Regions from separate parts of the Homo sapiens genome. Here regions 1, 2 and 4 are each linked to region 3. The links come from fine-mapping of genetic effects on gene expression. A gene starts in region 3. Each other region holds a variant in brackets. All regions are shown on one strand. Distances are from middle to middle.

Region 1 (5,000 bases), 45 kb after region 3:
TTGGGAGCAGAATGTTCTCGATGACAGATCGAGCCTGGTCGCAGCACCGCCTGCACAAAGTGGGTTTTGGTCATCAGAGGCTGTGGTCGACCACAGGGTAGTCATTTCCTCATTCTGCAGGCTCTGTCATCCCTCTCGAACACCTCAGAGGCGTGGAAGTAAATGTTGTCTCAGTACTGAGTAAATAAAGTAGCCAGGGAGATGATCTCTATTTGTCTTATTGTATAGATGTATTTTAAAAGATTTTTATTGGGTCTCTTATGATGAGCCAAGTGCTGTGTTGAGAGTTGAAGATTTTCAGAGATAACTACCAAGGCCTCACATTGTTGTTCAATAACAAGATAACCTTGGCAAATTAATTCACTTCTCAAAGTCTCTGTTTTCTCATCTATAAGACCGAAAAAAGCATGTATGTTATTTTGCTTATTTCACCTACTACAATGACGACAAGGATTCAGTAAAGTCAGGTAGCACAAAATACCACCACAGAGTAAAAGTCACTAAATAGTAGTTGTGAATCATTATTTAAATTTCTTCTTATTCCGAAAATGACTTGGAACATCTTATAAATTGTTTGCAACAAAGAAAAAAGGAAGGAAGTGAAGAAATTTTTTAAATGGAAAAATAACAGCAAAAACAAGATGAGACCGAGTTGAGGTTAATATAGACAATACAGTTAGAGCCCTGCACCCTTGCTAGAGAGGAGCTTTCAGAGTGGCTCTGTGCTTCCTGACAGACAGCAAAGAGGAAAATGGTACAGGAAGTACCTGAATAAGAGTTTTTAAAAAGAAAAGGAAAGAAAGCTTTTCAGAAAGAAGCATGGCTTTCCTTATTACTGACGCTTGAGGAAAATTTCTCTGTGGGTCATCTTAAAAGAACACTGGGTACTGTTGTGACTAATATCCTCAACGTCCTTGCAGTAAATACAGAAGGACATTTCCTAGAGCTGTTTCTGAAGGCATCCGTGAGTGGAGGCTGCTGGCTTAGTGCCAGAGCACAGGTTACAGGAAAACAGTTCAGGCAGGAGGTGGGCAAGCCTACCTAGGCTGCTATGAAGATGTCTTTATCTTCAAGGGTACATACCTTCCAGGGAGGGGCAGGAAACAATGTGGCCCGAGAGTGCAGCCAGCTGGGGGAAAGGTCCGAGTCAGCCCTCATAGTGCTCAGCACAGAATGCCACTTTGAAATCTGTGCCCAATACACTGTCGTGGGATCTAGGCTTGCAGGGTTCCTGGAGGCAGGAGAACTGGCCAGATGGAAAGGGCTGCTTTTAAATCTCGCCCCAGTGGGATGTAAACCCTCCTAGATTCTGGCTTATTTTTGAATTGTCTATAACAGATTGGACCTCTCAGCGCCATATCCTTTTAAATATGCACAAAGCAATGGAATCATTCCTCTGCATTTATGATACTTTATCTTGTGGCACTTCAGAGGTATGGTTAGCATCATTTGCTTCTACTGGTGTTTACGGTTTTAAGTCCTGCCCATGTTGCATTTAAATATTTTTGATATGGGTCTCTGTGTGAGTATGCATGTTGGCGTTAGATCGATAGATGAATGGTTTTGAACAGGTAAACATAGTTAAGTCAAACGAGCATGTATAGCTGCAAAGGTAATTGGTAGTATTTATTTGGAGAGTAAATCGTTGCTTCAAGTCATAATCCTCCATTTCCAACATTTAGAAATAAAAAACGACCTCCGTGCAGGGGAAGATAGCTAAATTGAATAGCAAGAAAGGACAGGCTTGAAATACTGGTTAACCAATGAACTGAGACCCATTAGAGTAAATTACCAAGTATAGAAACATAGCCCCACTGCTTGCTGGCTAGGACGCATCAACACCCTGAGCATCCATTTGTTTAAAAGGAAACACACAGCCTCCTTTGCAGCATCAGCATGCACAGAGTGATGGGAGAAGAGATGGCCAGAGAGGAGGAGAGTGTGGAGGCTGTGCTGCCAGAGAGGGAACAACGGGAACACCAAAATAACTTAGTGAGTATGCCTGCTTTCCCACAAGTGAGCTTACTTTCCCACTGCATTTAACCATGCCCACATAGAGAGAGCCTGTATCGTGTTCCTAAGGAGACATTTCTGAGTAACTTCTTTAGAAGCCCCAAATAAGTAAGCAAACAAACAGATCACAAAGCCACATGTTCTTTACCACTGGCATTTACCCTGATGGCTCATGAGAGCATTTTATAAATCCAGAAAGAGACGGAGAACAGCAGATCCCTCAAGCAAGTAATTGACACAGGAAGAATAGCCTGTCACCCAGGAGAGCTGGAAGCCCTGCATTTCAGTTACAGTTTATTTAGCTTCACTGGGCCCTCATTGGCTGGCGGTTTTCTAGATCTCTCTTTGAGCAGATGTTGTCTAGACAGAGATGGTGAGAACATATTCTGTAATATTCGCTCCTGCAGCAGAGCAGAGGGGGTTCTTTTTGGTTTTGCCATATTGTGGGGTGGGGTGAGTAATGATCCAGTGCCCATGATTGAAAACTCTCGTGGTCTGTT[G/T]GAGCTACCAGGGATCTTAGAACTGATCTGGTCCACTCGCTCTTTACAGAGAAGCAACTTGCCGTGCCTCTCCTCAGGAAGCCATGCCTGGTGCCACCCGCACATCACTTCTAGGCTGGCCCTTGCAACAGTGTGCCATGGGCCTCTGTGATCCCTTAGTCTACCCCAGCAGACAGGGAGCCCTGAGGGCAGAGGCTTTTTTGTCCCTCTCTCTTTGTGCCTCAAGCACCTCAGTTAGGGCCTGGGCTGGACCAGGCTTTAGTAAACGTTTGATAAACCATGAAGAGATAAAACTTAAACCCAGCTGACCAGATTCCAGGAGCACGTTTCCTCCCTCCCCATTCCCACCTCCTCGCCCCCAGCTTGCTCACTAGGGGCACCCCCATACTGATCACGAAGGAAGGAGCCACTTCTGGTTTGGCATCTGGAGTTTATTAGGTACTTACTGATAGCCGTCAGTTGTAGATAGGGCTGAAGTGCAGGCAAATGGCTGCCTGCATGGAGTGAAATTCAATAAAACTGCATTTTAAGTGAAAAATCAGTATAAACACCAGGCTTCTTTGCCATGGAAACAGTTGCTTAGAAACTGCCTAACAGCGAGTTCTAAATTTTTTAAAGTCAAGTTATCATTTAAGCTACACGGCCTTACAGGTTATTGAGAGATAATCACTCGCCTCAGGACACTCGGAGGCATGTGGCACAGCTGAGTGCCTCCCGATACTCTGGGGACCAGATAATCTCTTGATAACTGTGCTCTCTGGAGCCACTGATTTGGGCCTGGGGGGAGGAGAAAGAAATTTTTGTTCAGGAGTTAAATGGTGTACATATATTTTTTAAAAAGTGTTTCTCTTTGGGTTTGAAAAAAGATGGAACTGGCCATTTGGTATGTTCAACAGCCATCCCTGCGCATCGCAAAATGTATTGGGAACATTTTCCAGGCAGTTACCCCAGTCACTTCAAAGCAGAGGTCCTGTCTTTGTCTTCTGGCTTTGGCTTATGCAAAAGGAGTTTTCAACAACTTTGGCTTTCAGCTGTTCACTCTCTGGTTTCAGCTAAGGCTGGGCAGGAACTGGCCCCAGGACAAAGTGACACCAGAGTTTGGAACAAAGCCTGGCGCTAAGGACTCAGATCAGACCTCCTGGGCCTCAGGCTCAGCTCCCAGGGGCTTAAAGCCAACAAGGGTGCGGTTTGGAATTTGTCGTGTTTAGAGTTCAGCAGGCCGCCTGCCTCTCGGAGTGAGAGCACAGCTACACTTGCCAGCCATCTGGTTGCATGGCATGGCATTTGCTCCCCACCTCAGGCATGCAGAGGACAAAGTATATTGCATTTGTTTCTTCCTGAAAATAATGGGCGAAATTAGAACATCATTGGCTGAGAACTGGGATACCCCCACCAAGTCAGTATGGAGAAAATTATGAGTGAAACAAAAGACAAATGTTTTGCCCTTTTCAGGGTATCTGAAAATTATCCATGGCATGGTAGTGCTGCTAAGATTGGTGGTGTTAATTATGCCTCAGACTCTGTGTCCCTCTCTCTCTCTTTCTGGAAGAAAAGAAGGAATACTGTTTTCATCATATACTTCAAAGTGTTGTCCTGCACCTCCTCTCCTCAGAGCCTCAGAAGGACCTGTGAGGAGAGTGGGCCAGGTGTGATCATCTTTGGAGAAAGAGGAAACAGGTTCATGAGGCAAAATCACTTGCTCTAAGCCACAGAGGTGGGAGAAGGAACGTGCATTCCTGCCATTCTGGGGCATCTGCCCCTTTAAAAGCAAAGAAATGAGACCCAAAACAGTCCTTCCAAGAGTTTGGCTCTTGCTTAATAAAAGAAGGTGAACTTTGCACAAGTTTTTCCTTTGCTTTTCTGTTAATATTTTATGTGGATATCTTGCAGGGCAAAAAGAGTGGCTTATTTTCTTTTCCTTTCCTGCCAACAAATACGACATTCATATTTAGCATGTTAAAAAGAGCTCAGAAAATGAACATTGCAGCATTTTCATGCTGTGTAAGTCAGAGCGCAGCTATGACTGAACTGGGTCGTGGCACCGCTTTGCTGGGTGTTGCCCAGATAAAAATATTCCTTGAAGCTGGGAGAGCACCACGCTGTAGCTTGAGAAATTGTTCCAGCTCTTGAAAGGGGAAAAAATCAAATGAAACCATTTGCATTCTAACAGTCTTTGGCACCAGGGAAAACTGTCAACTGTGTCACGTGTAAATAGAAATCTGCTCCCCGCTTTTGGTGCGTTTTTTCATAATTTCCCTTGCCACTCTAATTATCAAAGATATTTTTATTTTTAAACAAAAATTGTCTCCCACGCAGGCCTCATCTTTCTGCGGTGAAGTGGAAACGATGAATTAGAATATTCTAATCACTTCTCCAACAACCACTATGGAGGTTATAAACACAAGATTATCCTAGCAAAGAAAAGTAAATTGTTTGGGCACAGAACAGGCCAGGAAAAAATTCAGTAGGCCGGGCCCGGTGCTCACA
Region 2 (7,704 bases), 62 kb after region 3:
TCTCTCTTAAAGGACACCCAAGTGGCAGCCTTCAGCTTCTAGGAAGGGTGACAGGATCAGTGATGAGAAGTCTTCTCACAAGTACCCCATACACCCTTGACATTTTTTTAAACCCTATTCATGTGTAGCTTATCCACTCACACAAAAAAAGTCATCAAAATAGAAGGCGTTTATGTGTCTATAATCCTATGGCAAACTCACATTTGGTATTAGGGGCCTAACATCATCTTGGGTCCCTCGCTTGTGCTTTGTGTTTCTCGAGGGGAACCAGGGCTGGGAGAAGGGGAAGCAATGCTTAATCCAAATAAGTAGCTGGGCACAGTGGCTCACGCCTGTAATCCCAGCACTTTGGGAGGCCGAGGTGGGTGGATCACAAGGTCAGGAGTTCAAGACCAGCCTGGCCAAGATGGTGAAACCCCGTCTCTACTAAACATACAAAAAAAAAAAATCAGCTGGGCGTGGTGGTGGGCGCCTGTAATCCCAGCTATTCAGGAGGCTAAGGCAGAGAATTGCTTCAGATCATACCACTGCACTCCAGCCTGGGCGACAGAGTGAGACTCCGTCTAAAAAATAATAATAATAATAATAATAATAAGCAAAAAATAAGCAAAGGAATCTTGGAGAGGATGCCTCTCAGGGAATGGGTTGTATCCCCGTGGGCATGTAGGAAGATGATCTCCCGCCCATGCCCTAGCTCATCTGAGCCCCCTCAGAACCCCAAGAGAGGCAGGTCAGGCCTCGGAGCTTTTCCTGACTACCCATGTTGAAATCAGGGCACTGCAATGCCGCCCTCCTCGCCACAGCTCTGCGTGGGGCTTGCAGCCTTTTTCTCATGTAGGAGTCATATTCCTTTCTGCATCTTCAGCACCTGACAGAGACACACGACAGGGTCATGACTTGCCGCTTCATCTCATGGTCATGATGACTGACATATCCAGTAACTCCTCCAGAGACATTAAGAGCAAAGACAGGATTCTAACAGGAGGCTACTGATCAGTTGCATGATCAGTTACAACAGGGTTTATGGAACAGGATCTGAAATCTGCTGGTTGGAAATTTCAACAAGTATTTTTCAAGGCTTTCTATGTGCCAGCCCCAGAGACAAAAAGACATGTATACTGCCTCTTAGGAGCTAGGCTTACAGGAGAGCTAAACAGGGCAAGTTCGTGTGAGAAGACAGCAATAAGTCTGCATTGGGAGGAGGTAGGGAGCGGCAGTTAAGCTCATGGGCTCTGGAGATAAGAAGGCCTGCCATGTGGCCTTGGGAAAGTCTCTTCAGGACTCTTAGCCTTGACGAAATGAAAATAAGAACAGTACCTCCCTGGGAGCATGGGACACCAGAGTGGTAGAGTGATAGACTCAGGGACCGGCTGGCCCCTGGGAGGTGCTCTATCAGAGTTGGTCACCACCATGAAGATGATGATATTCAAAAATATAAATGGCAGCCCAGAGGTTGAACCAAAAGGCAATTGGGAGGCTTCATGGAGGAGACACCACCAAGCTGGCATTGCAGTATTTGCCCATGAAGTACACACAGGGAAGGCCCGCTCTGGACAGAGGGAACAGCAGGTACAAAGGCTCAAACAACACATTTAAGGTGTTGCTCGTGTTGATGTAAGGTGGGGGCAGTGGGCAATGAAGATAAAGAAAAAGGTGAAACTTCAGGAAAGCAGGCCAGTCTGTTCAATACCCGAGAGGTGGGCCTGGGCTGTACATCTGGCGGGCACCCAATAGGTGCGTGAGTAATGGGTGGGTAGCATTGCCATAGGGAAGTTGTTCTCTGGGGCTTTTCTGCAGGGTGGAATAGGGTGGATGAGGAATGATGGGCAGAGCTCACCCTTGCCAGGCCACTCCCAGCCAGAGCTGAAGGGCCTGGTTCCTAAGGTCCCACTGGCAGCAAACACTAGGGTCCTAACCCAGGGTATTTCCAGCTTGTGAGCACCTGCTTTGCTGATTTCTGGAAAGTCTACACAAAAGAGGGGGTGCAGTCCTTGAGTTTACACTCCAGTGTGGGAGGCCAGACTTCCATGAGAAACATTTTCATTTAGTAATGGCTTTAATGAGTGCAGAACTTCCTGTTTTAAACAAACAAGTGATTAGCATTGACTATAGATGTGAAAATGGATCCTAATGAATTGCTAATTAGCCGCCTTCTCTTCCTGGGATCTTTAGCTGGTAAATTCCCTCTCTAGCTATAGGGAGCCTTAGTCGATCAGACTGGCATTGATTCATTCATTCATTCAACATACATTTTTTGAGTCCCTACTGTGTGTCACTGTAAACAAGAAAGGGAGGATCCCTTCCTCACAGTCTGATGGAGGAGACAGCATTAATCACCTAAACTTAAAGACCTATAATGACACACTTACAGGCCAGGGAGCTGGGACAATGTGCAACAGGAGGACCTGATCTTGCCCTGGGGTGGGAGGGGGCAAGAGGAAGGGGCATTTGAGCCAAGATCTGAAGAATAAGTAGAACTTAACTCATGGAAGGGGGAACAGAAAGAGTAGAAGAGTGGCTCAGACATCCAGAATGGCATATGCAAAGGTGTTGTGTTGAGAGGGAGCAGTGTGAGTCAGGAAAAATGAAGCCAGTGTAAGAGGTGTGCAAGAGGCGTGTGTGTGTGTCACAGAACGAGAGCATGTGTAATTGATGTTGGCTTCATCCTTTGTAGCAGACAGTAAGTACCCAGTGCCCACTCCACATCCGTCAGGGCTTACCACCTCGGTGTGCTCCAGCCAACTTCCAGCTGCCCTGCATTTGATTTCTTTGACTAAGGATTTTCTGCAGGTAAGGAAGGCCTTCTGTCTCCACGCTTGGCAGGCCAGAAGTCCTGGTGAATTAAGCAGGTCTTGGGAGCAACCCTCAGCCAATAACTGATGTGTAAAAATCACAGCTCCCCAGTGTAAGAGTTAAAGAAAGAGGAAAGAAACAGGAAATGAGGCTCAACAGTCAAAGACAGGTTTATCTTAGAGAAATAAACCTGAGAGGGGCTTCTGGCCGATTTAATGTTGAGCTGCATTTCATCTTTCTTTCCTCTTTCTTAAACTCTTAAACCCAACCCCTTGGGCAGGGTAACTTCAAGGTGTGTATTCTACACTGGCTCCCACAGTTCCCTAGTAGGACTGAGCCCCACTTGGGCACAGTGGTATAACTTCCTTGACCCTGCACTCTTTCCCTGTCTCACTTCCCCATGTCCCTACTGGTGCTTCCTGGGATTAGGTCCAAATGAACTACCTGCCCTCAATTCTTTGTCTCAGTACCTGCTTCTGGAAGAACTCATGATAAGATATCCTGGAAACAAAACACAGATACATTTCAAGTCCCTTCCACATCCTAGTTACCCTTGCCTGGATCCCCTCCTCTCTCTCACTTGCTTCCCTTACTGAGTGTATCTGTAGACCATGGTGGCCCAGCTGGGGTCTGCTTAGCACACCAGAGCTTCTTAAGGTAGGTCACTCAGAGGGAGCCATTTGGTTCCCAGAGAGGCCAGTGGTATATGTCCATGTCCCCATCCCATCATTAGCTCCCCCTTCTTTGAATGCACCATCCTTCAAATGCTCCCTGCCCCTTGTAGCTGAAGCAGACCACCTTGAGGAGGAATCCAAGTGGCTGGCCTGTGTGGCCAGGGGCAGGGACAAGAAGTGCTGAGTGAGACACCTTCCGTACTCACCAGCCTTGCTTTCTTTTGTGTATGAATTGAAAGGATTCTCCCTGGAGTTGAAAAATAAACATGTTTTCTGAATAATATGGCATATTGACCTCGAAGTCCCTACAGCAGTTCTGGACAAAGCCAGGCTCAGGTTAGGGCCTGCCATTATTATCATTCATTCAATAGAAGTGATTCATTGTCTGTCCTCCCCTTCTTAGCAACAGGGTCCTGGTATTTAGGCATACAGCTGATCCAAATAAAGGCCATGGTTTCCAGTTCTCCCTGCAGCTGGATGTGGCCATATGACCAAGTTCTGGCCCATGACAGATAAGCAGAAATGATCTGCAACTACAGCCAAGTCTCCATAAATACAGGGTGTGTTCTCTTCCCATGTCCTCCTTTCTGCTGGCTGAAGTGCATACTCAGTGATGGGAGGCAGAGTGGCCGTCTCGGGCTGTGAAGGGAAGCCAGACTAGAGTCAGCAGATATTGTAGTAACCAGGTAGAAATGCCAACTAGTTGAAAATTAAGTGTCTAATGAAAC[T/A]TGGGGAAGGAGAAACCAGGGCTCCTAAAACTTCTTTTGATTAAATAAGATGCAGTAGGTCCAAACTTTGACCCAACACTTATAAGCTGTTAATGTCTGTCAGAGGCAAATCTTTTATTCACTGATTCATTTATTGAGCGGGTGCCAGGAGCCAAGCCCTGTGCTAGTCATTGGGGATGCAGCAGGAAACAGGACACTTGGAGTCTGTGCCCTCCTGGAGCCTTCATTACCATTTCTAGCATTTTATTCTAAAGTGTTTCTGCCATCACCTCCAGTCAAGACGGCATTGGGTTCATGCTTTAAAAATAACCTCTGCTCCCCAGCTGGAACTCGTACATTGTGGATGGGAATGCAAAATGGTATAGCTGCTTAGGAAAACAGTTTGGGAGTTTCGTATAAAGTTAAAGCAACCCCACTCTTAGGTGTTTGCCCAGGACAAATGAAAACATGTCCACACAAAGACTTGTATATGAATGTTCATAGCAGATTTATACGTAACAGCCCAAACTGGAAACAATTCAAATGTCTATCAATAGAAGAATGGTTAAAAATGGTTAAAAAATTGTGACATAACCATACAACAGAATACTACCCAAAAAGGAATACACATATTAAAAGGAATATCCATATTACTGGATATACACAGTAATATGGATTAATCTAAAAATCACTACATGTGATGAGATTAAATGGCAGATAGGAGGCCAGACTAGCTTGCAGCTCCCGCTCGGATGGACAGAGCAGCCAGTGGAGACTCACATCGTGAACTTTTGCTCCAAGAACTACTACAGGTACATACTAGGAAAGCCGAGAGAATCCACAGACCCTTTAAAGGAACTGGATCACTGCTGCAGGCTCCCTGAGATGCCAAAAACCTGTGAGTCTGCTTGCTTTCTCAACAGGGAGGCTCGTGGTCTGGGGCAAGTTCTCGGCCCTGGTCACCGGCTGCCTGGAAATAGACTCAGTGCTGTTGGAGGGGCATGGTAGGAGTGAGACCAGCCTTTAGGACTGCAGGCTGCATAGGAGTGGGTGAGGCCCATGACTGCCAGCTTTCCCTCATTTCCCTGGTGACCTGTATGACTCAGCAGAGGCAGCCATAATCCCCCTGGGAATATAACTCCACTGGACTGGGAAACAGTCCCCTATTCCCCACAGCAGCTGCAGTAAGCCCTGCCCAAGGAGAAGCTAAACTCAGACATGCCTTTCCCTGCCCCCTCCTGGTGGTCTTTCTCTACCTGCCCTGGTAACTGAAGACAAAAGTCGTAATCTCTTGGGAGCTCTGCAGCCCTGCCCACTGCCTGAGAATCCTGAATACTTAACCAGTTGTCTCTAGGGCAAGTTTGCTTCCTCCGTGTGGGACCGCAGCTGATGCACTCTTGAAAGCACCACCTCCTGGCTGGAGGCCAACCAACTCAAAACCAGCACTCTAAACAAAAACACAACCAAAGACCCTCACAGAGCCCACTTCACTCCCCTGCTAGCTCCACAGGAGCAGGTGCTGGTATCCATGGCTGCAACACCTGAAGATGGATCACATTACAGATTACAGGACTCTGCAGATGCTTCCCAATACCAGCCTAGAGCCCAGTAGCTCCACTGGGTGGCTAGACCCAAAAAAGCAAAAGCAATCACTACAGTTTGGCTCTCAGGAAGCCCCATCCCTAGGGGAAGGGGAAGAGCACCACATCAAGGGAGCACCCCATGGGGCCAAAGAGTCTGAACAGCAGCCCCTGAATCCCTAATCGTCCCTCTGACATAGTCTACCCAAATGAGAAGGAACCAGAAAAACAATTCTGGTAATGTGACAAAACAAGGTTCTTTCACACCCCCAAAAGATTATACCAGCTCACCAGCAATGGATCCAAACCAAGATGAAATCTCTGAATTCCCCCCAAAAAATTCAGAAGGTCAATTATTGAGCTAATCAAGGAGACACCAGAGAAATGTGAAGTCCAACTTAAAGAAATCAAAAACATGATACAGGAAATGAAAGAAAAATTCTTCAGTGAAATAGCACAAATAAAAAACAATCACAACTTCTGGAAATCAAAGACACACCTAGAGAAATGCAAAATGCACTGGAAAGTCTTAGCAATAGGATTGAACAATCAGAAGAAAAAACTACAGAACTCAAAGACCAGGCTTTCAAATTAACCCAATCTGTCAAAAACAAAGAAAAGAATTTTAAAAAATAAAGCCTCCAAGAAGTTTGGGACTATGTTAAACATCCAAACCTAAGAATAATTAGTGTTCCCGAGGAAGAAGAGAAATCTAAAGGTTTGGAAAACATATTTTAGGGAATAATTGAGGAAAACTTCCCCAGCCTTGCTAGAGATCTAGACATCCAAATACAAGAAGCTCAAAGAACACCTGGGAAATTTATCGCAAAAAGATCATCATCTAGGTACATAGTCACTGGGTTATCTAAAGTCAAGATGAAGAAAAGGATCTTAAGAGCTGTGAGACAAAAGCATCAGGTAACCTATAAAGGAAAACCTGTCAGATTAAAAGCAGATTTCTCAGCAGAAACCCTACAAGCTAAAAGGGATTGGGGTCCTATTTTTAGCCAGCTTAAACAAAACAATTATCAGCCAAGAATTTTGTATCCAGCAAAACTAAACTTCATAAATGAAGGAAAGATACAGTCTTTTTCAGACAAACAAATGCTGACAGAATTCACCACTACCAACCCAGCACTACAAGAACTGTTAAAGGAGCTCTAAATCTTGAAACAAATCCTCAAAATACACTAAAATAGAACCTCCTTAAAGCATAAATCTCACAGGACCTATATTACAATAACACAATGAAGAAAAAGGTATTTAGGCAACAAATAACAGGATGAATAGAATAGTACCTCACATCTCAATACTAACATTGAATGTAAATGGCCTAAATGCTCCACTTCCAAGATACAGAATGGCATAATGGGTAAGAATTCACCAACCAAGTTTCTGCTGTCTTCAAGACACTCATCTGACACATAAGGTCTCACATAAACTTAAGGTAAAGGGATGGGAAAAGATATTCCATGCAAATGGACACGAAAAGCAAGCAGGAGTAGCTATTCTTATATCAGACAAAACAAACTCTAAAGCAACGGCAGTTTAAAAAGACAAAGAGAGACGTTACGTAGATAAAAGGACTAGTCCAACAGGAAAATATCACAGTTCTAAATACATATGTACCTAACACTGGAACTCCCAAATTTATAAAACAATTACTACTAGACCTAAGAAATGAGATAGATGGCAATACAATAATAGTGGGGGTCTTTAATATTCCACTGACAGCACTAGACAGGTCATCAAGACAGAAAGCCAACAAAGAAACAATGGACTTAAATTACACCCTACAATAAATGGACTTAACAGATATTGATATTTACAGAACATTCTACCCAACAACTACAGAATATACATTCTATTCTTCAGCATATGGAACATTCTCCAAGATAGATCATATGATAGACCACAAAACAAGTCTCAGTAAATTTAAGAAAATCGAAG
Region 3 (7,704 bases):
CCACTAGCCACGTGTGGCTATTGGAACACCTGAATTGCAGCTGGTAAAAACTGGAAACTAAATTTTCAATTCTATCTACTTAAAACTTTAGTTCCTTAGTCACACATTTTAAGTGCTCCATAGCCACATATACCAAGCGGCTACCTGTTGGATGGCACAGATAGAAAACATTGCTATTATCACAGAAAATTGTATTAGATAGCGCTGTTTATATCCTTTATGCTGCTATCATAGAAAGTTGTATTGGATAGCGCTGTTTAGATCCTTTACTCAACCACGAAAATTCTATCAGAGACCATGATTTAATTCCTATTTTTAAACTATATAACAGGCACCACGCGATATCCTGTGGTGTTGCAAATAAACAAGAAGGTCTAGTTCCTCTCTCAAAACATAATCTAATGACAAAGATGTAACCAGTTCAAATGAACAGCTAGTAGGAACAAATTAAATGCTAAACTGGTATGATGGGGTGGGAGGCACTCATTAATTCTAATAAATGAAAGCACCACAGTTTGATTGCAGTCAGGTGACCACCTTCACTTATTAAATGCATTGAGGCACTGAGTACATGAAAAAGAACACATTTTGGCATCAGGCAGCCCTGGGCTCATGTCCTAGCTGTATGTCTGTGGACAAGGCACTTAATCCCTCTATACCTTTATCATCTCATCTATAAAATGAGGATAATAATGCTAGCCTACTTGCAACATAAGGCTTTACCACGTAAGATTAGGGATAACGGAGCTTCATACACAAATGTACTCTCTAATTTGCTTTTTTTCAGTAACTCAACTAGGGTGAGGCAAGGAATCAAGAAAGTGTCACAAAAGAAGTGACACTTGGCCAGGCGTGGTGGCTCACACCTGTAATACCAGCACTTTGGGAGGCCGAGGCGGGGGCATCACAAGGTCAGGAGATCAAGACCATCCTGGCTAACACAGTGAAACCCCATCTCTACTAAAAATACAAAAAATTAGCTGGGTGTGGTGGCGGGCCCCTGTAGTTCCAGCTACTCGGGAGGCTGAGGCAGGAGAATGGCATGAACCCGGGAGGTGGAGCTTGCAGTGAGCTGAGATCGCACCACTGCACTTCAGCCTGGGTGACAGAGCGAGACCCCCATCTCAAAAAAAAAAAAACAAAAAAAATGACACCTGAGATGGACTTTAACTGCCTCTTGAGGTCCCACCCAATAGAATTCTGTACAGTGGCAATTCACATTTCAGCACACTCTTCAAATAATTTCTGAATGGCACAGTGGGGTACATGAAGAAGGCCCCATAAACTCCAGGCTCTACCTCTTCCCGGAACTGCCCGAAGGGCTGAGGGGATCCCTATCTCAGTACAGTACGCGATATTTGGGGGCAGTCCCTGCTAAAGGGCTAGAACTGGGTCTCCTGAAAAAAATCATGAAGATTTTGGTGTTTGCCAGCCTGTTGTAGTCTGAGCCTGTTCAGTTCGAAAGCCTTGAAAATACCACTTAGCCACTTCAGTTTCCTCACCTGTAGAGCAGGACATCTGTGGTGTCCCCAACTCACAGATAGTATAGAACACTTGTAAAGCCACTTCGCTATAAAGGCCTACCACATATAGGGTGTCTGGAGCAGCTCTGAGCTTCATTTCTTCAGTCTTCCATTATGAAACTCATCCGGGAGTGTAGGTGTCCATCTTTCCCCACCAGACTGTAAGCAACTTGAAGGTAAAGACCATGCCTCACAGTGAGTAATCAAAAGTCTCATCTCACCATAATCTGCTGAATGCCTACACTGTGCCTCACCCCATGCTAAATGTTCATTTGGATTATCCCGTTTACTCCTCACCACGAGATGAGTCTCAGTTTTTCCTCTTCTGCAAAGTTCCTACTTCATAGGGCTCCGAGAATTTTTTTTAATGGCAATGTATGTAAAGATATCAGTACTGCACTTCGCATGTAATAAAGACATAGTAAATTTCAGTTATCCATTCTGTAGATAAGAAAATTAAGGCACAGACAGGTTAAGTTGCTGGGGTCAGTAAGGCGGCAAAGTCAGGCTTAAATTCTAGGCAGTTGGCAGAGGCAACATGCTGCAAGTGTCCAAGCCAGTGCCTGGCACATAACAGAATGAGTTCAATGAATTGTCTGTCAGAACCTGAGCAGGGCCTGAAATCAATGACAACTGCATGAGAGAGGAGAGGAGAGGAGAGGTAAGGTCTGGGTGGCCCCTTAACCTAAGATGGGAGAGACTACCTACTTCACAGGGCTGTTCTAAGGACTGAGTGCGAGGATACACACAAAGGTCTTAGTATAGTGACTGGTATGAAGTAAAGGCTTTGTAAGGGGTAGCTATCCTTGCCTCCCTCTTACAGATGAGAAAACGGAGACACAGGGAGATGAAGAAACTCTCCCAGTATTATTCAGCTGGCAAATAGCTGAGCCAGGACTCGATCTGCAGAGTCTGACTCCGGAGCCCACTGGCTTTTACTCCAAATACCCAGCACTGGGCCCGACATGCTAGGGCCAGTACGGCAGTGAATGCAGCCGAGATAATAACAGCCACAAATGTCAGGGGGAAACTGAAGGGAAAATGGCTTGATGAACTAGAAGTCTGGACACCTGAGTCCCAGTCCGTGGACCCTCAGGCAAGTACCTTAAACCTTCCCGGGCCTCAGTTTCCTTCTTCGAGAAATGGGGCTAACTTTGTCTCCCATCTCAGAAGCTCGATCAGGCCTGGAAAGCAAGGCTCAATGAAGAGGCTTAGAGGGGCCTAGGTTGTATGTGGGCGAGAGGACAATCCGGGGACCGTCCAGGGGGTGGGGATTTGGTGTTTACCTTTGCGGAGCTCGCGGTGCCACACGGAGACGATGGGTCCCGCGTGCTTGCGGTGGTGGATGAGCCAAAGGGACAGGGTCTGCACGCTCTGCTGAGAGTTGCTCAGCTCCGAGAGCTTCTTCTCCAGCGCCGACTCAGAGAAGGAGGACATGGTGGCGGCAGTGAGGCCCGGCAGGGAGCGGCCTGGGCCGCCCAGTGCGGCGGGAAGAGCGACGGCACGAGGCCGGGGCCTCACCTGACAGGCTGCGGGACTTTTTACCGACTGACAGACTGCCAGGGGTGCGAGAAGGGGGAGGGGATGGGTCTCCGCAGTAACAGCCGCCCGCGCCGCCGCCACAAGATGGCCACCCGACCTCTCACCCTGCCGCGAGAGCGAGGTCAAAGGGCAAGGGCCGGAGCAGAGGGGCACCGAGAGGCGTCGGAGCTCTAGAAAACCGTCCCTTTGGAGGCGGCGGCCGCTCTGAACCTCGCGCAGAGCACTTCGAAGGAGACAGAGCGAGGCAAGGAGAGTAGTTCCCCGGGCCCCCGGAAAGAGCTTTGACCGCTCGAGCCTGCACACCGGCGCAGTGGATCTCGCCGGAACCCTTTTTCCCGCTCCCTCGGAACCTTTCTGGCGCGATACGGCGCGCTACTTAGCGCGTCACTTCCGGCGAGGCAGAGGAGGCGGGAGAGTGAGAGAAAGGCTGGAAGACGAGGTAAGGGAAGAGTGGCGGGAACCAGAGGGAGCCCAGCAGCTGGGACCCTGTAGAGGGGTATCCTGAGGGGACATTGAGTCTGAGAGATCATGATCTGGATATGGGAGGGGGATTTCCTTTCTAATCTGGCGGGCCCCAGGCCGCATCTTTCCTCCATATGTGTTCGGCTCTCTGGCTGTCCCCCAAAACACTTAGTTTTGGTTCTTCCAAGCCACCCACGTGCCCTTTTCACGCCTCCACGCCCTGGCGCTCGTTCTCTGTCCGAAAGTGACATCCCCTTTCTCACCTGGTGAGCTCCTACTCAGCCCCCCGGAGCACCCTTTAATGTCCTGTTTTGACCTTTTAGTCTGTAACAGCGCCGTCATGAAACACACATTTGGGCTCTCGGCTCTTAAGTGGGTTCTCACTCAGGGTATTATTACGTGCTGCTTTTGCCGTCTGCGGGTCCAGTTGACTTTTTCGAACTTAAGTGAGGTGTTAACTTTAGGGAAAAGGTGGAGGGAACTAACTTAGCCTTCCCAATGTGTCTGTTGACCTCATGTTGAGACACACTATTTGAGGCCTGGCGCAACGTCTCTTGCTTGTAATCCCAACCCTTTGGGAGGCCGAGGCGAGAGGATAGCTTGAGGACTGGAGTTCAAGACCAGCCTGGGTAACAGCGAAAATTAGCCAGGCATGGTGACGCTCACCTGCAGTTCCAGCTACGCGAGAGGATACCTTGAGCCCAGGAGTTAGAGGTTACAGTGAGCTATGATCGTGCCACTGCACTCCAGCCTGGGCGATGGAGCGAGACTCTTCTCTGAAACAAAACAAAACACTATCTGAGACTCTAAACCTTGACCCTATTTTTTTTTTAAGTTTTAAATCCCAGGTATCAAAGCAGCAGAGAAATTTTGTTTTTCTTACTGCCACGGGGGTGATGGTAGGGAGTTAAGTTATAGACATAAGAGGGTTTTAAAATTTCCTGATCGTGGTATAACTTCCTAGTTGTGGGCAGACTCTAGTTTAGGAGACGTTCTTCTAGTTGATGCCTGCTTTTGCTCTTATTGCACTGTATTGCAGTTCTTTGCTTACATGCTTTTACCCTTCCTCCAGACTGGAATCATAATCATAGCTAACGCAGTGAGAGGTTACTATGTGCTAGACACAATTCCCACACAGTAACTCATTTAATCCTCACAACAAAGCTGTGAGGTATTATATTATCCCCCTTTGGACAGCGTAGGAAACAGGCTCAGAGAGGTTAAGTGACCTACCCAAGATCACATTACTAAGACTTGAGGGAAGGGGCTGCAACTTAGCCATCTTTTTGGCCCCAGTTCCTGATTTATCAAGTGAGTTAGTGTAAAAGAGGTGAGTAACCTAAAATCATACAGTGAGTATCTAGTCATAACTGAGGGCTTTTGTGTCGAAATCTAGATCATCTTTCCATATTAATAACACTGTCATATACTGAGCACTTTTATACCAAGTCACTGTCTATTAAGCACATTACATACTTTTTAAATTTAATTCTTACATCAGTCTTAGGAGTTGAAATTATTACAATCACTATTTGATAGACGAGAAAATGTAAAGCATGGTTAAGTACCCTATGTACTTGGACATAGTTAGGAAATAGCAGAGCCAGGAGTCAAATTAGGGTTATCTTATGTCTGATCCCAAATTCTTGCCTCCTGAACCAATAGTTTATTCATTCATTCGGAAAATAATTTTTCAGCACCTATGTCCAAAGCACTCTTCTAAGCTAACAGACAAAATCCACGTTCTCAGGAACTTACTTTCTACTGAGAAAGATAGAAAAACAAACATGCAAGTTTAGAATAAGTCAGAAAGTGGTAAGTAACTTCAATAAAAATCAAGGAGATAAGGAGGATAAGGAATGTATATGTGTAGGTGGGTAGTCTTTTACTTATGCTTCTCAGAGAAGGCCTCATTGATAAGATGTCATTTGAGAGACAAGCCATATGCCATTGTTCCAGGAAGAGGGAAAACCAAGTTTATACCATTGTTGGCATTTTGGAGCAACAGCAGAGAGGACAATAAAGCTGGAGTGATATGAACTAGAAGGGTGGCTGGAAATTAGTTCAGAAAAGTACGAAGGGACTGCATCACATGGTGACTTGTAGGCAATAGTATAGACTTTAGATGTTACTCTGAATGAAATGAAGTCCACTGGGCAGTTTTGCACAAAGAAGGAGCATTGTGGCTGTTAGGTAGAAAATAAGACAGTAAGAGTGCAAAGGTAGAAGCAGGAAGGACCAGTTTGGCAGCTGTTGTAGTAACCCAGGTGAAAGGATAACTCAAACCAGGGTGGTATCTGTGGAAGTGGTAAGAAAGGGACAGTTCTGGGGATATTTTAGAGGAAGAGGTAACAGGATCCGCTGATAGATTGGATATGGGGTGTGAAAGACATATGAGAGTTGAGATAGCTCCAAGGGTTTTGGCCTAAGCAACTATAAGAATAGCGCTTCCATTTACTGAATTACAGAAAAGAGTGGGTTTGGAGAGTAAGAGCAAGCATTTGTATTTGGACATGTCCATTTGGAAATGCCTATCTGAGTATAGATGTCTAAGGGGCAGTTGGGTTTATGGGTCTGGAATTCAAGGAAGAGCTATCTGGGTTAGAGATAAAAATGTGAGAGTCATAACGGAATAAGGTGTAAAAAGAGACTGAGTCCTAGGATTCTTCAACATATAGAGGTCTGAAAGGTGAGGATGATATGATTATGTGATTTTTCTTCTTAAGCTTGTTAATAGCTTGTTAGTATTAACAACTCTAATTGATTTTCAAATATTGAGCCAGTCTTGCATCTCTGAAATATACCCCACTTTATCATGGTGTGTGTGTGTGTGTGTGTGTGTGTGTGTGTGTTTTACATACTGCTGAATTTCCTAATATTTTCTTTAGGATTTTTGCATCTATACTCATGAGAGAAATTGGTCTATAGATTTTTTTAATTTTTGTATTGCCTTTGGTTTGGTATCAGGATAATACTGGCTTTATAAAATGGATTGGAAAGTGTTTCTTCTTTTTCTAGAAGAGTATGTGCAGAATTGGTGTTAATTCTTCATTAAATGTTTGGCGGAATTCTCCAATGAAACCATCTTGGTTTGGAGATTCCCTCCACTCCCTGCTTCCCTCCCTCCCTCCTTCCTCCTTCCTCCCTCCTCCCTCCCTCCCTTCCTTCCCTTCTTCCTTTTTTTTCTGGAGTTTTTAAGTGACAAATTCAGTTTATTTAAAAGTTATAAAGCTGTTAAAATAATCTCTTTCCTATTGTGGTTGTGTTTTTTGAGGAATTAACCACTTCATCAAAGTTGTCAAATTTATATGGGTAAAGCTATTTGTGGTATTCCCTGTCTTTGTTTTCTGTTGCTTATAACAGAATACCTGAAACTGGGTAATTTATAAAGAAAAAGGATGTATTTCTTACAGTTATGGAGGCTGAGAAATCCAAGGTCACAGGGCCACATCAGGTAAAAAACTTTCTTGCTGGTGGGGACTCTGCAGAGTCCCAAGGCAGTGCAGGATATCACAGGGCCAGGGGGCTGAGTGTGCTAGCTGAGGTCTGTTTTGCTCTTATAAAGCCACCAGTTCCCATGATAACCCATTAATCCATTTATGAGGGCTTATAAAGACTCCACTTCTCAATACATTGGGAATTAAATTTCAACATGAGTTTTGGAAGGGACGGATATTCAAACCATAGCATTCCCATATTACCCTTTGATGTCTGCAGGGTCTGTAGTACTGTCCCGTTTCATTACTGATATTGGAAATTTCCAGTATCAGTGTCTCGTCTCTTCTCTCTCCTCTCTCTCTCTCTCTCTCTCTTGCTCACTCACTCCCTTGTCAATCTTGCTAGAAGTTTGTCAATTTTATTGACCTTTTCAAAGAACCAGTTATTTATTTCATTGACTTTCTGTGTTTTCTGTTTTCAGTTTTGTCAGTTTCTGCTCCTTATTATTTCTTCTGCTTGCTTTATTTTGCTCTACTTTGTCTAGGTTCTTGTGGTAGGAGTTTACCTTTTTCGTTTGAGACTTTTCCCCTTTTCTAATATATGACTTAGTACTATTAATTTACATCTCAGCATGGCTATAGCTGTATCCACAGATTTTGGTGTGTCATATTTTCATTTTCATTCATTTCCCTATTTTTTTTCTAATTTCCCTTAAGGTTTCCTCTCTGTTCCGTGGATT
Region 4 (5,000 bases), 23 kb after region 3:
CTTATTAAAAAGATAATTGAGTGTGTTTCTGTTCACCCACACTGGAAGGTGAGACTGGAACTGGTAGAACTTGTGGAGGACCTTCTTTTGAAGTGCAGTCAATCATTGGTCGAATGTGCTGGTCCCCTTCTGAAGGCCTTAGTGGGACTAGTAAATGATGAGAGTCCTGAAATCCAAGCCCAGTGCAATAAAGTTCTGAGACATTTTGCAGATCAAAAAGTAGTGGTGGGCAACAAAGCCCTCGCTGACATCTTGTCAGAAAGCCTGCATTCCCTTGCCACATCTCTTCCTCGCCTAATGAACTCCCAAGATGACCAGGGCAAATTCTCTACTCTTTCCTTGTTACTTGGTTATCTGAAACTCTTGGGCCCAAAAATAAACTTTGTCCTCAACTCTGTGGCCCATCTCCAGCGGCTTTCCAAAGCACTCATCCAAGTTCTAGAGCTAGACGTGGCTGACATCAAGATTGTTGAGGAACGGCGTTGGAACTCTGATGATCTGAATGCTTCTCCAAAGACCTCAGCCACACAGCCTTGGAACCGCATCCAGAGGAGATATTTCCGCTTCTTCACTGATGAGAGAATCTTCATGCTCTTGAGGCAGGTTTGTCAGCTACTTGGTTATTATGGGAATCTTTATTTGCTTGTGGATCACTTTATGGAACTTTACCATCAATCTGTGGTTTACCGGAAGCAAGCTGCCATGATCCTTAATGAACTGGTTACAGGGGCTGCTGGGCTGGAGGTTGAGGATCTTCACGAAAAACATATTAAAACAAACCCAGAAGAACTGAGAGAGATTGTGACATCTATACTTGAAGAATACACAAGTCAAGAAAATTGGTATTTGGTTACCTGTCTTGAAACTGAGGAAATGGGAGAGGAGCTGATGATGGAGCACCCAGGCCTCCAAGCCATCACGTCTGGTGAACACACCTGCCAAGTTACATCTTTTCTAGCCTTCTCAAAGCCAAGTCCCACTATTTGCTCCATGAACAGTAACATCTGGCAAATATGCATTCAGTTGGAAGGAATTGGCCAGTTTGCATATGCACTAGGAAAAGACTTCTGTTTGCTCTTGATGTCAGCCCTTTATCCAGTACTGGAGAAGGCTGGAGACCAAACCCTACTCATTAGTCAGGTGGCTACCAGCACCATGATGGACGTTTGCCGTGCTTGTGGCTACGACTCCCTGCAGCACCTGATCAATCAAAATTCAGACTATTTAGTGAATGGGATCTCTTTAAATCTGCGTCATCTGGCTCTGCATCCTCATACCCCAAAGGTCCTGGAAGTCATGCTGCGGAACTCAGATGCTAACCTGCTTCCTTTGGTGGCAGATGTGGTTCAAGATGTCTTGGCCACCCTGGACCAATTTTACGATAAGAGAGCTGCTTCCTTTGTCAGCGTTCTGCATGCTCTGATGGCAGCATTAGGTACATTGAGAGCCCTTTTTAATGCTGATGTGTGGGGGACAGGACTCAGTCTCCTAGTTTGCTTAGCCTCGTTTTTTGCATTGTTTGTGGTGATGCTATGGAGGACGTTTTAATCATTTTCTCTCCAGTCCCATAGGTTATGGGGGGGTTTCACTGTTTATCTTTTATACTTTCAGTAATCTCTACCATTTATTGAGCTCCTGCTCTATGCCAGGGTATAAACCCTGCAGAATAAATGTAAATATTATTTCTATTTTATAAATAAGAAAAACTAAGGGTCAGTGACATCCTACTTAGCCAGGGTCACACAATTAATAAATGATAAAATCAGGATTTATGACAGTTTTGTTCTTTCCAGTATAGCAAACTGCTTCTGATGATGCATAGAGTTAGCAGTATCTATGCTAATGAAGAACAGATATAACGTGAATTATTCAGTCACATATTGTCTAGAACGGTACTAAGAGAAGTTTCTTTGATGATAGAAATAATCTTTATTCGTTCTATCCAGTACAGTTACCACTATACACATGTGGTTCGTGCACCTGAGGAACTGAATTCTATATTTTACTTAATTTTAATAGCCACATGTAGCTAGTGACTACCATACTGGACAGAGCAGGTCTAGAAACTTCCTTTTAACCTTTTAATTGTGTGAGTTGGTTTAAGTTTCTCTTCTTCCCACTGATCCTATTGGGTGCTTACCGAAGATGTTAGCCACTATTAGAATGGCAAAATTGGCTGGGGGCGGTGGCTCATGCCTGTAATCCCAGCACTTTGGGAGGCCAAGGCAGGCGGATCAAGAGGTCAGGAGATCGAGACCATCCTTGCTAACATGGTGAAACCCCGTCTCTACTAAAAAATAAAAAAAAAAAA[AT/T]TAGCCAGACGTGGTGGCGGGCGCCTGTAGTCCCAGCTACTTGGGAAGCTGAGGCAGGAGAATGGCCTGAACCTGGGAAGCGGAGCTTGCAGTGAGCCAAGATCGCGCCACTGCACTCCAGCCTGGGTGACAGAGTGAGACTCTGTCTCAAAAAAAAAAAAAAAAAAAAAGGAATGGCAAAATTTTGGACTTCAATTATAAGGAAAGGAATCCTTCAACTGGATAGTCAATCTTTCAATGAGAAAATAATAAGCTGTATAGCTTGGGTCCCTTTTATTTAAAGAGCATATTTCCAGTATTTATCTCAGTACTGCTAATAGCCTCTGAGAAGGTGGAATGGTCACTGGCCTCATTTTGTCAGTTGAAAAAGCCAAGACCTTGTAAGAAACATTCTCATGGAAGGTAACTGGGGCAGGGACAGTGCACTGCCCTGTAGCTAATGCCATTTCCAGTGTTTGTTTATTCATGCATGAGCATTCACGTTCAGCATAAATGTTCCTTTTTCATTCATTCATTCAAGAGTGCCTGCCATATGTCAGACACTGTGCTAAGTAATGAAGATAGAGCAGAGAAAAAGACGAATAAACTCATGGAACTTCCCTGCCACTGCAAGAGAGATGATAAACAAGTAAACAAATCATTAGACAAGCTCACGGCAGATTCTGATAAACACCGTGAAGGAAATAAACACCTCAGTGTAACAGACACAGGCTCCTATAAGTTCAGTGGTCAGGGAGGGCCTCTCTGAGGAAGCAACACTAAAGCCAAAACCTGAAGGATGAGAAAGGCCCATCAACACATAGGGGGCTATCACATTTATTTTTAAGAACATTCAGGCCGGGTGCCGTGGCTCACACCTGTAATCTCAACACTTTGGGAGGCTGAGGTGGGCGGATTGCTTGAGCCCAGGAGTTCAAGACCAGCCTGGGCAACCTAGTATGGCCTCGTCTCTACTAAAAATGGAAAAAAATTAGTTGGGAGTGGCGGTACATGCCTGTAATTCCAGCTACTTGGGAGGTAGAAGCATCACCTAAGCCCAGGGAGGTCAGGGCTGCAGTGAGCCATGATTGCACCACTGCACTCCAGCCTGGGTGACAGAGGAAGACTGTCTCAAAAAAAAAAATAAATAAATAAAAATTCAGGTGGGAAGGCCCAGAAGGAAGAAGGGGCATGGGTCTTTGGAGAATGGAAAAGAGGCCTTTGTAGAGAGTGTTGCAAGATGAAGTTGGAAAGAAGGGCAAGGACAAATCCTGGTAGGGCCTTGAGGAGCAAGAGAAGGAGTTTGGATTTTATTTTGCAGCTACTTGGAAGCCTGTGTAGTGGGCTAGTCACTGGGGAGTCAGCCATGAATAAGACCCACTTAGGCCTGCCCTCGTGGAGCCCCTCATAGGACTGACTGGTTGCTTATGCAGACTAAGACTGGCTTCCATGGGCCAAATATATCCCACCTGTACTGCTTTAGCGACCTATGCTATGTTTCAATTTGAAATTTTTAAAATGTAGGTTAAGAAAAGCCCTGTGAAATATATCTCTCAAGAGGTATCTGAATTTGGGCCTTCAAAATTGAATTGTCTTAGATTGCTGATGTCTTCGGTCATCTCTGAAGGAGGAGTGTCAAGACTCCTGTGTAGCTTTGTAGTGCTTTTAAAAAAAAAAAAATGAGGTGGAGGGAGAGGGTCTCCCTTGCAGAAAGGAAAATTGAATGGTTAAGACTGACTCTGGGGCTTCCTTGGAACAGAAGCAAACTTAGAGCTAGCTTTTATGAAAGTTTTGAAATAACCCAGAATACACTCACTTTTTGAACAGGAAGTAGTACTCAGGTGGAGTTGGTATAGTCACTCATAAATCAGAGTAGTACCTTTTGCTGTCATTTCTGTTTGTCATAGAATTATCTAACTGACGTCCACTCTTTTAAGATGGGTGTGGAAATGTGTTCTCAGAGAACTTCTGAAAGGCCTTAGAAGAACCCAGTAAGAGCTTTAGGAAATTGAGTTATCATTAACATAGTGTGTCACATGCAGTGACTAAAAAAGCATTAGGTGCCACGGTAAGGGCAAGAAGCATCAGTTAATTACTGCTTAATCCCAACTGCTGGTTAGCTGATTATTCATAACAAGAAAAAAATAGGGTAGCTTTGAAAATAAGTATTTATGTCACATACTTCACAACTTGGAGAATGTGCTGCTGCATTCTTTTTATGGCTGCATAGTATTCCATCACGCGTCTGCACCATAGTGTATTTAACCAGTCCTTTCTTGGTAGACATTTTGGTCATTTCCAGTCTTTGGCCACCACAAAAAATGCTGCATTGAATATCTTTGTAGGTCATTTTGGACATGTCTCAGTATATTAATAGGATGAATTTCTGAAAAAAATGCTGGTTTAAAGGGTATTACGTTTAAATTTTTGAGAGAGTATCAAATTGCTCTCTAAGAGGTTGTACCAATTTAAACTCCATCAGCAATGTACGAGAGTGCCAGTTTTGCCACGCCATCACCCACACTGTGTATTACCAAGCTTTTGATCTTTGCTAATCCAATAGGAGAAAAATAGCACCTTATTATAGTTTTAATTTGCATTAAACGTGAGATTGAGCTTCTTTTCATATGTTTAAAAGCCATTTGTGAGCAAAGACATTTTAATGTCTGTCACCAGCCTTGAATCTAGAAATAATCTTTGCAGCATATC

The links. PIP is the estimated chance that this variant, and not a neighbour inherited with it, causes the effect. A credible set is the group of variants that fine-mapping cannot tell apart.
Region 1: its variant is the best candidate, but not a certain one, in a credible set for the expression of TTI1 in tibial nerve (GTEx, PIP 0.70).
Region 2: its variant is the best candidate, but not a certain one, in a credible set for the expression of TTI1 in cerebellar hemisphere (GTEx, PIP 0.57).
Region 4: its variant is the best candidate, but not a certain one, in a credible set for the expression of TTI1 in whole blood (INTERVAL, PIP 0.67).

The regions. Positions count from the first base shown.
Region 1 is chr20:37,985,806-37,990,805 of GRCh38, reverse strand. All of the region lies in intron 7 of TTI1 (TELO2 interacting protein 1), which reads left to right. Among named protein-coding and RNA genes, the nearest start is that of TTI1, 45 kb to the left of the region's middle. RefSeq lists an enhancer at 142-221. The variant G/T (reference allele first, on the strand shown) is at 2,514.
Region 2 is chr20:37,966,800-37,974,503 of GRCh38, reverse strand. No RefSeq gene overlaps it. Among named protein-coding and RNA genes, the nearest start is that of TTI1, 63 kb to the left of the region's middle. The variant T/A (reference allele first, on the strand shown) is at 4,196.
Region 3 is chr20:38,029,204-38,036,907 of GRCh38, reverse strand. It overlaps TTI1 (TELO2 interacting protein 1), which reads left to right and starts at 3,452. Exons shown (of 8, transcript NM_001303457.2): 1 at 3,452-3,504. It overlaps RPRD1B (regulation of nuclear pre-mRNA domain containing 1B), which reads right to left and starts at 3,162. Exons shown (of 7, transcript NM_021215.4): 1 at 2,810-3,162. The coding sequence starts at 2,960. LOC124904898 (a long non-coding RNA gene) reads right to left here and starts at 2,802. Exons shown (of 2, transcript XR_007067579.1): 1 at 1,503-2,802. RefSeq lists enhancers at 2,530-3,125, 3,326-3,595, 3,126-3,721.
Region 4 is chr20:38,007,950-38,012,949 of GRCh38, reverse strand. TTI1 (TELO2 interacting protein 1) reads left to right here. Exons shown (of 8, transcript NM_001303457.2): 2 at 1-1,435. Among named protein-coding and RNA genes, the nearest start is that of TTI1, 23 kb to the left of the region's middle. The variant AT/T (reference allele first, on the strand shown) is at 2,312.